Regions from separate parts of the Homo sapiens genome. Here region 2 is linked to region 1. Evidence: fine-mapped expression QTL. Tissue or cell type: whole blood. Region 1 holds a variant in brackets; the other region holds the start of a gene. All regions are shown on one strand. Distances are from middle to middle.

Region 1 (5,861 bases):
CTGGGTTCATAAATATGTGCTATCCTTTTGCTTCATCTGTAATTATGCGCCCTTGCAACACAAGAGTGCAGGGAGACCACAGCCTCCTTTACACCAAACAGCACTTCCGTATCAAAGCAGCCCAGAGCTCATGCTAACACGCTTAGCTGCTAAATCATCTTCATGACTCAAATTAGCTCTGAGGTCAGCTAAAGCGCCTAGTATTTTCTCATTAATTGCTAAAGCAAGGCCCAATCTAGATTTATGTAATTAAGTTAAAAACCAAAGTGAAGCCTGGGCGACATGGTGAAACCCCACCTCTACAAAACATACAAAAATTGGCTGGGCATGGTGGCATACACCTGTAGTCCCAGCTACTCGAGAGAAGGCTGGGGCAGAGGGATTGCTTGAGCCCAGGAGGCAGAGGTTGCAGTGAGCCAGGATGGTGCCACTGCACTCCCACCTGGGTGACAGGATGAGATCCTGTCACAAAAAAAAAAAAAAAAAAAAAAAAAAAAAATGCCGGGTGTGGTGGCTCATGCCTGTAATCCCAGCACTTTGGGAGGCTTAGGTGGGTGGATCGCCTGAGGTCAGGCATTCGAGACCAGCCTGGCCAACATAGTGGCCCCATCTCTATTAAAAATATAAAATATTAGCTAAGTATGGTGGCGGGCGCCTGCAATCCCAGCTACTAGGGAAGCTGAGGCAGGAGAATCGCTTGAACCTGGGAGGTGGAGGTTGCAGTGAGCCGAGATGATGCCACTGCACTCCAGCCTGTGCAACAAGAGCGAAACTCCATCTCAAAAAACCAAACCAAACAAACAAAAAAAGTGAAATAGCTGGGCACAGTGACTCATGCCTGTAATCCCAGCTACTCAGGAGGCTGAGGCAGGAGGATCGTTTGAGCCTCAGAAGTCAAGGCTGCAGTGAGCCATGATTGTGCCACTGCATTCCAGCCTTGGTGGCAGAACAAGATTGTCTCAAAAAAAAAAAAAATCATTTCTCTTCTTCACTGAAAGCACACATATGTGGTGCTGGGGTCAGGCAGGAAGCTATGGGCAGCGCACATTCTACAGTTCATCGGACAGTACACCCATGCCACCCCTGCTGGGCATCCAGGTGAACCGTTTTTCCTCCACCACCACTGCAGCTTGTCTGGAAAGCCCTGCTTGTATGTTCTCTTAGCGCAGGCCCTCCTCCCACTAGGTGCTGTTCAACAACAGGACGTCAGCCTTTCCTGGAAGATTTCTTCACACAGAGCTCAAGAGAATCCCCCATCCACGTCCCCAGACCACCTCCTCCAGAGTGGTCAGTGCCACCTTGCTCATTGGTCTCTATGCCTCTCCCAGCACTGCTGGGTTTTGCTCTCAGCATTAGTCTCCGAGTGTATGCAATGCTCCAGGCAGACAGCCTGCTGAATAAATCCAGTAAATCCCAGGGGGTCCTCATCACCTCAGTGAAGTTTCTGTGCTACTCACATTAAATAACGTGATGACAGCTGTGGCAATCAGGCATGTGGTACCCAGCAAGTTATCTTCTTTTTCATCAGGGAAGAGGCTCGCCTGCTTCTGAACTGGCACAGATCCTAGAGGAGCAGAAGATAGTAAGGTCAAAGCCTACAGAATTTTGTTTATTTTTTCTTTTTGAGATGGAGTTTTAGTGTAGTCCCCTAGGCTGGAGTACAATGGCACAATCTCGGCTCACTGCAACCTCCGCCTCCTCGGTTCAAGTGATTCTCCTGCCTCTGCCTCCTAAGTAGCTAAGATTACAGGTGCCCACCACCATGCCAGCTAATTTTTGTATTTTTAGTAGAGATGGGGTTTCACCATGTTGGCCAGGCTGGTCTCAAACTCCTGACCTCAGGTGATCTACCCGCCTCAGCCTTCCAATATGCTGGCATTACAGGCATAAGCCACCACGCCCGGCCAAGCCTACAGAATTTTAGACAAGGTAGCTGTGTCCCAACCTCTTCGGGACAGTCAGGAGGGCTCTCGACTTTACCACTGGTTGGGATGATTGGATAGCCATCCGGAGGGGCATGGGAGCAGTCGTGAGGTCCAAAGAGAACATTCTCCAATCTCTGCATTAAAAGACACCAGCAGGCTGGCATGTAAAACGTGCAAGCCGGCAGTAGCTTTCTGCCAGCTGTCAGCACAGGCCTCTGTCAGAGGTGTACTTGCACTGGCTGTGACTTGACGTTTTCCCTCC[T/C]GGGGGAGAAAACAGATCCGACACTCTACCTCAGCACTGGGCAGCGGTCCGCTCTTCTTCACTCCGGCTGCAACTTCAGACTAAGGAAAAAAACGAAGGGAATTGAGGAAAGTTGCCCAAGCACCTCAAGTCCAACCCCCAGTCTCCAGCGCTGACTGTATTCCTTCACCAGCCTGTTTCTCAAAAGCCCAGAGATTTTCTTTCCTCTCTTCACTCCTTACAGTGCCTGGCATGATAATTATTTGGTGCTCAATAATTATTTGTAGAATGAAAGAATAAAGCTCTTTAACATGACTAAGCACAATAGGAAGGATTCCAAAGAGCTTGAAAAAGACTCTTCTCTAGTAATCAAGGTCTCTCTTTACTTGGACAAAGTACAGAGCTTACAAAGACATTTTTAACACAAAAATTGCAAATGTGGGGCTGGCAGGTGGCTCACAACTGTAATTCCAGTACTTTGGGAGGCTGAGGTGGGAGGACTGCTTGAGCCCACGGGTTCAAGACCAGTCTGGGAAACACAGCAAGACCCATCTCTACAAAAAATTAAAAAAAACATAGCTGGGTATGGTGGTGTATGCCTGTGGTCCCAGCTGCTCAGGAGGCTAAGGTGGGAGCCTAGCAGATGCGAGGCTACAGTGAGCCATGATTGCACCACTGCACTCCAGCCTGGGTGTCAGAGCAAGACCCTGTTTCTTTTTTTTTTTGAGACGGAGTCTCGCTCTGTCGCCCAGACTGGAGTGCAGTGGCGGGATCTCGGCTCACTGCAAGCTCCGCCTCCCGGGTTCACGCCATTCTCCTGCCTCAGCCTCCCAAGTAGCTGGGACTACAGGCGCCCGCCACTACGCCTGGCTAATTTTTTGTATTTTTAGTAGAGACGGGGTTTCACCGTTTTAGCCGGGATGGTCTCGATCTCCTGACCTCGTGATCCGCCCGCCTCGGCCTCCCAAAGTGCTGGGATTACAGGCGTGAGCCACCGCGCCCGGCTGACCCTGTTTCAAAACAACAACAACAACAAAAAAAACAAAAGAAAACTGGCTGCCATTGTCAGCATTTGCTACGAAGTCTCATCAATCTTTTCTTCTGATGCTTCCTACACCTGTTCTTTCCTTCTCAGTGTGTGATTCCTCACTCATTCAGGGAGCTATCACTTCACATCTGGGCCATCGCCAGGCTCCCAAAACTAGCTCCCTCTGCTGAGGTCACCGCTCCATCTCACTCCACCACATTAACTGCCTTAGAACAGTGAATTGGCCCAGTTACCAGACAGTACTTGCTGCTGAATCATCAAAGCTAAGGTCATAAATAAAGAGTCTTAGCTCTCAACTATCATAAAAAAAAGCAGCTAAATTCATCAAGACACACACACTGGATTTCCTAAGCCCTATTATTTCCCTAGGGTTGTTTAGAATGCAGACCAGCTCATGAATCTAGGAAGCCACAAGGAATAAGACACTAGCAGAAAAAACAGGCCTGCTAAAGTTGGGCATGATGGCTCACGCCTGTAATCCCAGCACTTTGGGAGGCCCAGGTGGTGGATCACCTGAGGTCAGGAGTTCGAGACCAGCCTGGCCAACATGGTGAAACCCCGCCTCTACTAAAAATACAAAATTAGCCAGGCGTGGTGGTGCATGCCTGTAATCCCAGCGACTCAGGAGGTTGAGTCAGGAGAACTGCTTGAATCCAGGAGGCGGAGGTTGCAGTGAGCCGAGATCATGCCACTGCACTCCAGCCTGGAGACAGAGCGAGACTCCGTCTAAAAAAAACAAAAAACAAACAAACAAAAAAAAAACAGGCTTGCTAAGTTGGGACCCTTCAGTAGAAAATCTTTTTTTTTTTTTTTGAGACGGAGTCTCGCTCTGCCTCCCAGGCTAGAGTGCAGTGGCGCGATCTCGGCTCACTGCAACCTCCGCCTCCCGGATTCAAGCAATTCTCCTGCCTCAGCCTCCGGAGTAGCTGGGATTACAGGCGTGCACCACACGCCTGGCTAATTTTTTGTATTTTTAGTAGAGACGGGGTTTCACCATGTTGGCCAGGCTGGTCTCGAACTCCTGACCTGAAATGATCCAGCCACCTCAGCCTCCCAAAGTGCTGAGATTATAGGCGTGAGCCACTGTGCCCAGCCGCAGAAAAGCTTCTTACCTTGAGCAGGGGCATCTCTCGGGCCTGCTGGATTAAAAGGTGCATTTCGTTGATCTGCTGCCGCACAAGGGGCGGTACTGGGTTGCAGCAAGCTATGATGCCCTGAGGTTCCCTGAAGACAAGTAAGAACACACTCAACTTGTCACTCAGAAACGCAGCCCTTAAAGGCTTCCAGATAAGAATAATGACTGGGTAAAGCCAGGCTGCCACCTAAGCTGAAGCTACAGGTAGGTGACTAAGGAAACACTGATGTCAGGCCAGCCTAGGCCAACTTCTCCATGTGTTCTTTGCGACACCAAGCTTTAAGTGGATCCCTCTTGGAGCCTGACTCCCACAATCAGGGAGAGCTGAAAGTAAGTGCCATAGCACTGTGGATTCTCAATTCCGCAGGGGGCAACCAACGGGCTGTGGATTTTCATTCTTGCTTATACTTCAATCAAGATCACAAAACGTTTAAGATCATGAGCTGCTTTAATTTGGAAGAAAGTACAGATGACAGAATCTGGGACATTTTCTTCCCTTGCAAGTAGATGCTATAAGGCTCAGAGACTTAAAATAAACTCAAACTAAGGCATAATCATTGAAATGATTCCAGTTCAGAAGTTTTAGTGCTTAAATGGCAGCCTGAGGGCAGAAATTCTATATTCCTTCAACTTGCTACCTTCCAAGCTTGGAGCATTAATCTCTGAGTAAGCAGCCTTGGGTAATAGCAACCAGAAAAGCTTGATTTTGAAGAACATCAGATCTACTGAGAAAGTCAGAACATATTAATCAGATTTGAAACTCACTTAGGCAGTTCTTCAGCTATTTTCAGCATCATGTGGTTTGGCAGTACATATCTGGAAAAAAAAAAACACACACACACACACACACACACACACACACACACACACACGGTGGGGACACATTACATTCAGCCAGTAAGTTCCATTAGATGCTGTCACATAGGGGAAATAACCAGCTTTCATAGCAAAAGAAAAAAGCCCATTATTTACTTGTTATTAGATCTCCTCAGTCTGGAAACAAGTATTAAAAGAACCTCTAATCCCTTACCCGTAACTTTCATCTTCCCTGCGAGCTGTTTTATCCCTCCAGGCAAACAGCAGCTGAAAGGCTGTCAACTGCTGTGTGTTAAGGTGCTTCTTCTGCTTCCTATAGAGTTCAAGGTAGGACTCATCCGTGAAGATAGGTTTGATGAATTTCTACAAAGTATTAGAGAACATTCAAAATCAACGGGAATCAAAATTGTGCCCTGGGCTCTGGAAAATGTTTGGCTCTTTTCATGAATGTAAGGAGCAAACCTAAGAACTAGAACCTGGCCAGACACAGAGCCCAAGTGTCGCGGTCTGTGTGACTGCGGCTGAGGTGTACCTTGAGGCAGATGTCCCTGCTCCGTTGCCACACCACCTGCAGCTGCACCGGCTGCCCGTTGCCGCGCTCCCACATCTCCAGCCTCATTTTGTCATAGATATATAGCAGGTAATGGGTGTCATCCCGGGCGTAGCTGAGCATCTCCTCGGGCAGAGGGCTGGAAT
Region 2 (5,861 bases), 21 kb after region 1:
TTTTTTTTTAAAGAGACAGGGTCTTGCTCTGTTACCCAGGCTGGAATGCAGCAGTACAATCACAGCTCCCTGTAGCCTTGAACTCCTGGGCTCAAGTGATACTCCCACCTCAGCCTCCCAAGTAGCTGTGACTTGGGAGTGGTGCACCACCACTCCCAGCTACTTTAAAAATTTTTTGTAGGGATGGAGTCTCCCTACGTTGCCCAGGCTGGTCTTGAACTCCTGGGCTCAAGCGATCCTTCTGCCTTTGCCTCCCAAAGCACTAGGATTACAGGCATGAGCCGCCATGTCTGGCCCCTGATACTTTTTGATGAAACCAATAAAACTTGCACCCTAGCTGGGCGCAGTGGCTCACACCTGTAATCCTAGCACTTCAGGAGTGGTCACGACTTCGAGACCAGCCTGGCCAACATGGTGAAACCCCATCTCTACTAAAAATACAAAAAACTGGCTAGGCGCAGTGGCTTATACCTGTAATCCCAACACTATGGGAGGCTGAGGTGGGTGGATCACAAGGTCAGGAGTTCGAGACCAGCCTGGCCAACATGGTGAAACCTCCTCTACTAAAAATACAAAAATTAGCCGGGAATGGTCGTACATGCCTGTTATCCCAGCTACTGGGGAGGCTGAGGCACAAGAATCGCTTGATCTTGGGAGGTGGAGGTTGCTGCGAGCCGAGATCACGCCACTGCACTTCAGCCTGGGCGACAGAGCAAGACTCCGTACTCCCCCCCAACAAAAAAAAAAAAGCTGGTCGTGGTGGTGTACACCTATAATCCCAGCTACTCGGGAGGCTGAGGCAGGAGAATCGCTTGAACCTGGGAGGCGCAGGTTGCAGTGAGCCGAGATTGAGCCAATGCACTCCAGCCTGGGTGATGGAGCGAGACTCCATCTCAAAAAAAATAAAAATAAAAATAAAAATACCTGCTACTCTACAAGTTGTGGGAAAGAATCTTGGATCTGGCAAGGCGCGGTGGCTCACGCCTGTAATCCCAGCACTTTGGGAGGCCGAGGCAGGTGGATCACGAGGTCAGGAGATCGAGACCATCCTGGCTAACATGTTGAAACCCTGTCTCTACTAAAAATACAAAAAATTAGCTGGGCGTGTTGACGGGCACCTGTAGTCCCAGCTACTCAGGAGGCTGAGGCAGGAGAATAGCGTGAACCTGGGAGGCGGAGCTTGCAGTGAGCCGAGATCATGCCACCGCACTCCAGCCTGGGCAATAGAGCGAGACTCCGTCTCAAAAAAAAAAAAGAATCTTGGCTCTAAGTGTTCACGTCCCATTTAATTAAAAAAGATTTGTACAAAAGTCAATATATTTTTTCAGTACAAAAGTCAATACATTTTTTAAAGGCTAAACTAAAAATATACCAAGTAATATTTCCCTAATCAAAATCCATTGCTTCAATTTTCACATTTTATAGCTCTTCATACCACAGAAAATGTTTAAGGAAAAATAAATTTCAGGAAAAATTTATCTACTTCTTTGTTTTCATTTCTTTTCACTAACACAAGAAAACAAAGTACAGTACTTACCACTGAAGCAACCTGTCTCCCTGTGTTTCGCAAAATGCTTGGAAGCCAGGAAAACTTCGGTAAAAATCATACTCATCGCCAAACTGTGGTAGGCCCCCAGATGCCTTGGTGACTGCCACCACGGACCCAAGAGCAAACTGTCAAAAACAAGAAAAGATGGCATGTTTACACAGGGATCCCCATTCATTTGGTATGTCATTTTTTTGATCTATCGTATACAAGGTATCTACTCTTCATCCATCAAAAAAAGCACTCATTTAGTGCCAAACCCCAATCTAATCTAGGCCCTGAGAATACAATACTGAACAGGAAACCAAGTTTGGAGCTTATATTCTTGGGAGAGTTGAGAGACAGAATACATACGTATATAATCTGATTAATATTCACAAATACCTGGGGTTGAATCTTGACTCTGCTACGTATTAACTGAGATCTTGGACAAGTGATTGCTTTATTTGGACTTTAGTGTTCTCCTCTGAGAAACAGGAAAAATAAAAAGGGCCTGCACCACAGAGTTTTTGTGAGGACAGAATGAATAAGCTAATAAAAGCACTTAGGACAGTTCTTGGCACATAAGCGTTATTATTACGACTCAAGTTCAGATCCAAGAGCTTTCTACAGGAATTTGTTTTTGTGTTTTCATCTGGATGAGCATCTAAAAACAATACAAGCTTATCCTAGATCCTTGGACGACAAATTTATAACAGCTACTATCTAAAACTGGATTTGTGTTTATTGTTCAGTTAGTGTCAAGTGGTTCTCTATTTTAACTGTTGTGAGGTAACGAAAAAAAGCCGTGAAGTGACATAAATGATGGCTGATCATGTGAAGGCCTAAAACGTCATTGTGAGTTTTGTGAATAAACATTTCCCAAGAAAAAAGCAGAGAAAGGAGGTGGGAAATTAAGTCACGGAGGGGAACATGGTAGCTTATGAGCATGACCGCCACACAACCAGGACCACAGTTAGTGGTCCAGGAACTATTGAGAGCCATGTTAATGAATCAATAGCATTAGCTAACAGCAAATTAGATAAGATACAACGTTAGTGGAATTTCTGTAAATTTATAGGGTTAATTTACAAATTATTTTAGTTTCATTGCTTTGTAAGAGCTATGCACACCTTAAGCCTAGTTGTACGTTTGCTCATATTTAAGCTAAGTTATACAAAGATCTTAAGTGAACGCCCTGTATACCTTCCAGGAGTTACTAATAAACGTGCAATGGGGCTTTAACAGGTGACATTTAACTCAGGGTTAAAAATTATGTAGGACTGGACTTCAGAAACAGAGGAAGAGAAGGGCCATACTGGCCGCGGGAGGAGACAACTCCAGGCAAGTGTGGGGAGCGCGAAGAAGCCGAGCCCCTGCGGAGAGCTGGTCGGGTGGCTAGGGCGTGGCGAGCGCGACGTCGCAAGGGCTAGGGACGTCTGGGTGGCAAGGAAGCCTTTCCCAGGATGCGAGACGGCTTTCCACATTTGGGCCTCCATGGACTTAGGCTCGCAAGCGGGACGCCCCTCAGTGTCCGTTTCCGAGGCCCCATCCCCGGAGGGTGCAGGAGAGTCTGCGCCCAGCGCGGACAGGGGCCCCGCGACCCTCGCTCGGGCTCCACTACGGCGGGCGGGCATTGGCTGCCCAGAGGGCCCAGTCGGCTTCCGGCGGCCGCGGGCGACTCCTGGTACCCCCGAGGCCCCGCGAACTCACCTTCACAAAGCTGTCGGCGTCCGGGAAGCCTGGCAGCACCATCTCTCCGTCGGATTTGGTTGCGCTGGTCGCCGACAGGACCCTGGGCTCCCGGGTACTGGGTGGCGCCATTTTTTCAGCCTGCACGGCTCGTCTCGCGAGAGCTTGTCGGCCGAGGAGACGGGACGCGTGCGCACCACGCATGCGCCAGGTCGAAGCGGCGGGCGGGGCGTCTGATTATAGTGTGGGGAGCCTGCGATTGGGGTGGGGCGCCTGCGATTAGGTTGGGAAGCCTGCGTTTAGGGTGGGGCACCTGCGATTAGGTTGGGAAGCCTGCGATTAGGTTGGGAAGCCTGCGATTAGGGTGGCACTTTCGAGCGCTCTGGTGTGAATTTCACGTTCTTTTACCTCATATTGTATCATCCCAACAACCCTGTGATCTAGGGTGCGGCCTGGAGGACCTGACTATCACATATATTTTTGACACGAGGTTTGCCCAATCTGGTTTCGAACTCTTGGGCTCAAGAGATCCTCCCACCTTAGCCTGCGAAGTAGCAGGGACCCCAGGCGAGGGCCACGATCCCCGCTTATCCTCGTGTTTATTTAAAAATTTAAAAAACAAACAAACCGGGATTACCGGGAGTGGTGGTGCGCATCTGTAGTCCCAGCTGCTCGGGAGGCTGAGGTGGGATGGTTGCTTGAGCCGAGGAGGTGGAGGCTCCACTGCACTCCAGCCGGGGTGACAGGATGAAACCCTGTCTCAAAAATTTCTTTTTAAGGTTATGTTTTTGAGGCTGGGCGCCGTGACTCACACCTGTAATCCCAGCACTTTAGGAGGCCGAGGCGGGTGGATCACCTGAGGTCGGGAGTTGGAGACCAGCCTGGCCAACATGGTGAAACTCTGTCTATACTAAAAACACAAAAATTAGTCGGGCGTGGTGGCACATGCCTGTAATCCCAGCTACTCGGGAGGCTGAGGCTTGAGCCCGGGAGGTGGAGGTTACAGTGAGCCGAGATCGAACCACTGCATTCCAGCCTGGGCAACAGAGTGAGACCTTGTCACAAACAAACAAAAAAAACCATGTTTTTGGGACAAAGTTTCACTCTTGCTCTCCCAAAGTGCTGGGATTACAGATACGAGTCATCAGCGTGCAGCCTATTTTTATTTTTATTTTTTTTGAGATGGAGTCTCACTCTGTTGCCCAGGCTGGAGTGCAGTGACGCAATCTTGGCTCACTGCAACCTCCCGCCTCCCGGGTTCAACGAATTCTCTTGCCTCAGCCTCCCGAGTAGCTGGGATTACAGGCGTGCACCACCACGCTCGGCTAATTTTTTTCGTATTTTTAGTAGAAACGGGGTTTCACCATATTGGCCAGGCTGGTCTCGAACTCCTCACCTTGTGATCCTCCCGCCTCGACCTCCCAGAGTGCTGGGATTACAGGCGGAGCCACCGTGCCTGCCCTGTTTATTTTTTTTTTTTGAGACAGAGTCTCACTCTGCTGCCCAGGCTGGAGTGCAGTGGTGCAATCTCAGCTCACTGCAACCTCCGCTTCCTAGGTTCAAGTAGCTGGGATTACAGGCGTGTGCCACAATGCCCGGCTAATTTTTTTTTTTTTTTTGTATTTTTAGTAGAGATGGGGTTTCACCATGTTGGCCAGGCTGGTCTTGAACTCCTGACCTCAAGTGATCCACCTGCTTTGGCCTCCCGAAGTGCTGGGATTACAGGTGTGCGCCACCAGCGCCTGGCTTATTTTTTTTAGACTGCATCTTACCAACCTGGTCTCGAACTCCTGGGCTGAAGCCGTCCTCCCACCTCACTGGGATTACAGGCAGGAACCACTGTGCCCGGCCCAGCCTCATATTTAAAGTCACCTCCTCCCAAGCTCTGGCTGGTTCTGTGTTCCCCTCACCCATTTGGTCTTGACTCCTGTAATTAATTACACCTCCCCTGCCCCCTGGATCTATCTTTTCCCTCTCTATTGGTTCATTCCTAACAGCCTACAAGTACACTGACATCTTTCCCAACTAAAAGAGAAAAGGAAAAAACACTGGCTCCCACATCTCCTTCCAACTGCCATCATCTCTCTCTTGCCCTTTACAGGTAAGCTCCTGAAGAAAGCGTCTAGCTCCAACTGTGCTTCCTCCCTCCAGTACCCTCTGAACTCCTCCAAGCAGACGTTGTTTCCTGCAGACATCGCTGGAACCATTCTGGTTAACACAGAGTGGGAACTCAGTACACATTTGTGAAGTGAACTCCTGGAAGAGCTCTTGTGAGGGAGGCACCGAATTATCAGGCAGCTCAAGAGATAGATTCACTCTCCTGAAATTAGAGATGGGATGCCCTTAATACAATTCATTCCACCCATTAAGTCTTCAATAAATGTTCAGCATATCCAGTTAAGAGAATACTTGCTTTTCACTTTTTCCGTGTGTGTGCTTCAGGTACACAGGTACTCTGGCAGGACAAACGCCTAGTTCATTTAGTATTTTTGAGGACCTATTTCACGTGGTTCAACCTAATACCACATGTCAGTCAGGCTGTGCTAAATGCTCCTCCATGGATTATCTTGTCTTTCAGACAGCCTCACAAGGTAGGGCTTACCCACACTTTCAGAGGAGACAAGCAGAGAGAATCTACGTAACT

What was found. PIP is the estimated chance that this variant, and not a neighbour inherited with it, causes the effect.
Region 2: EXOSC10 starts here. The variant in region 1 is fine-mapped to the expression of EXOSC10 in whole blood (TOPMed, PIP above 0.99).

What each region holds. Positions count from the first base shown.
Region 1 is chr1:11,075,385-11,081,245 of GRCh38, forward strand. EXOSC10 (exosome component 10) reads right to left here. Exons shown (of 25, transcript NM_001001998.3): 11 at 5,698-5,854; 12 at 5,380-5,528; 13 at 5,115-5,165; 14 at 4,327-4,438; 15 at 2,217-2,267; 16 at 1,981-2,059; 17 at 1,458-1,564. Among named protein-coding and RNA genes, the nearest start is that of SRM, 18 kb to the left of the region's middle. The variant T/C (reference allele first, on the strand shown) is at 2,188.
Region 2 is chr1:11,096,483-11,102,343 of GRCh38, forward strand. It overlaps EXOSC10 (exosome component 10), which reads right to left and starts at 3,387. Exons shown (of 25, transcript NM_001001998.3): 1 at 3,239-3,387; 2 at 1,538-1,674. The coding sequence starts at 3,349. EXOSC10-AS1 (EXOSC10 antisense RNA 1) reads left to right here and starts at 3,193. Exons shown (of 2, transcript NR_135062.1): 1 at 3,193-3,332; 2 at 5,319-5,623. RefSeq lists enhancers at 2,553-3,115, 2,767-2,826, 3,116-3,676 and a silencer at 2,728-2,929.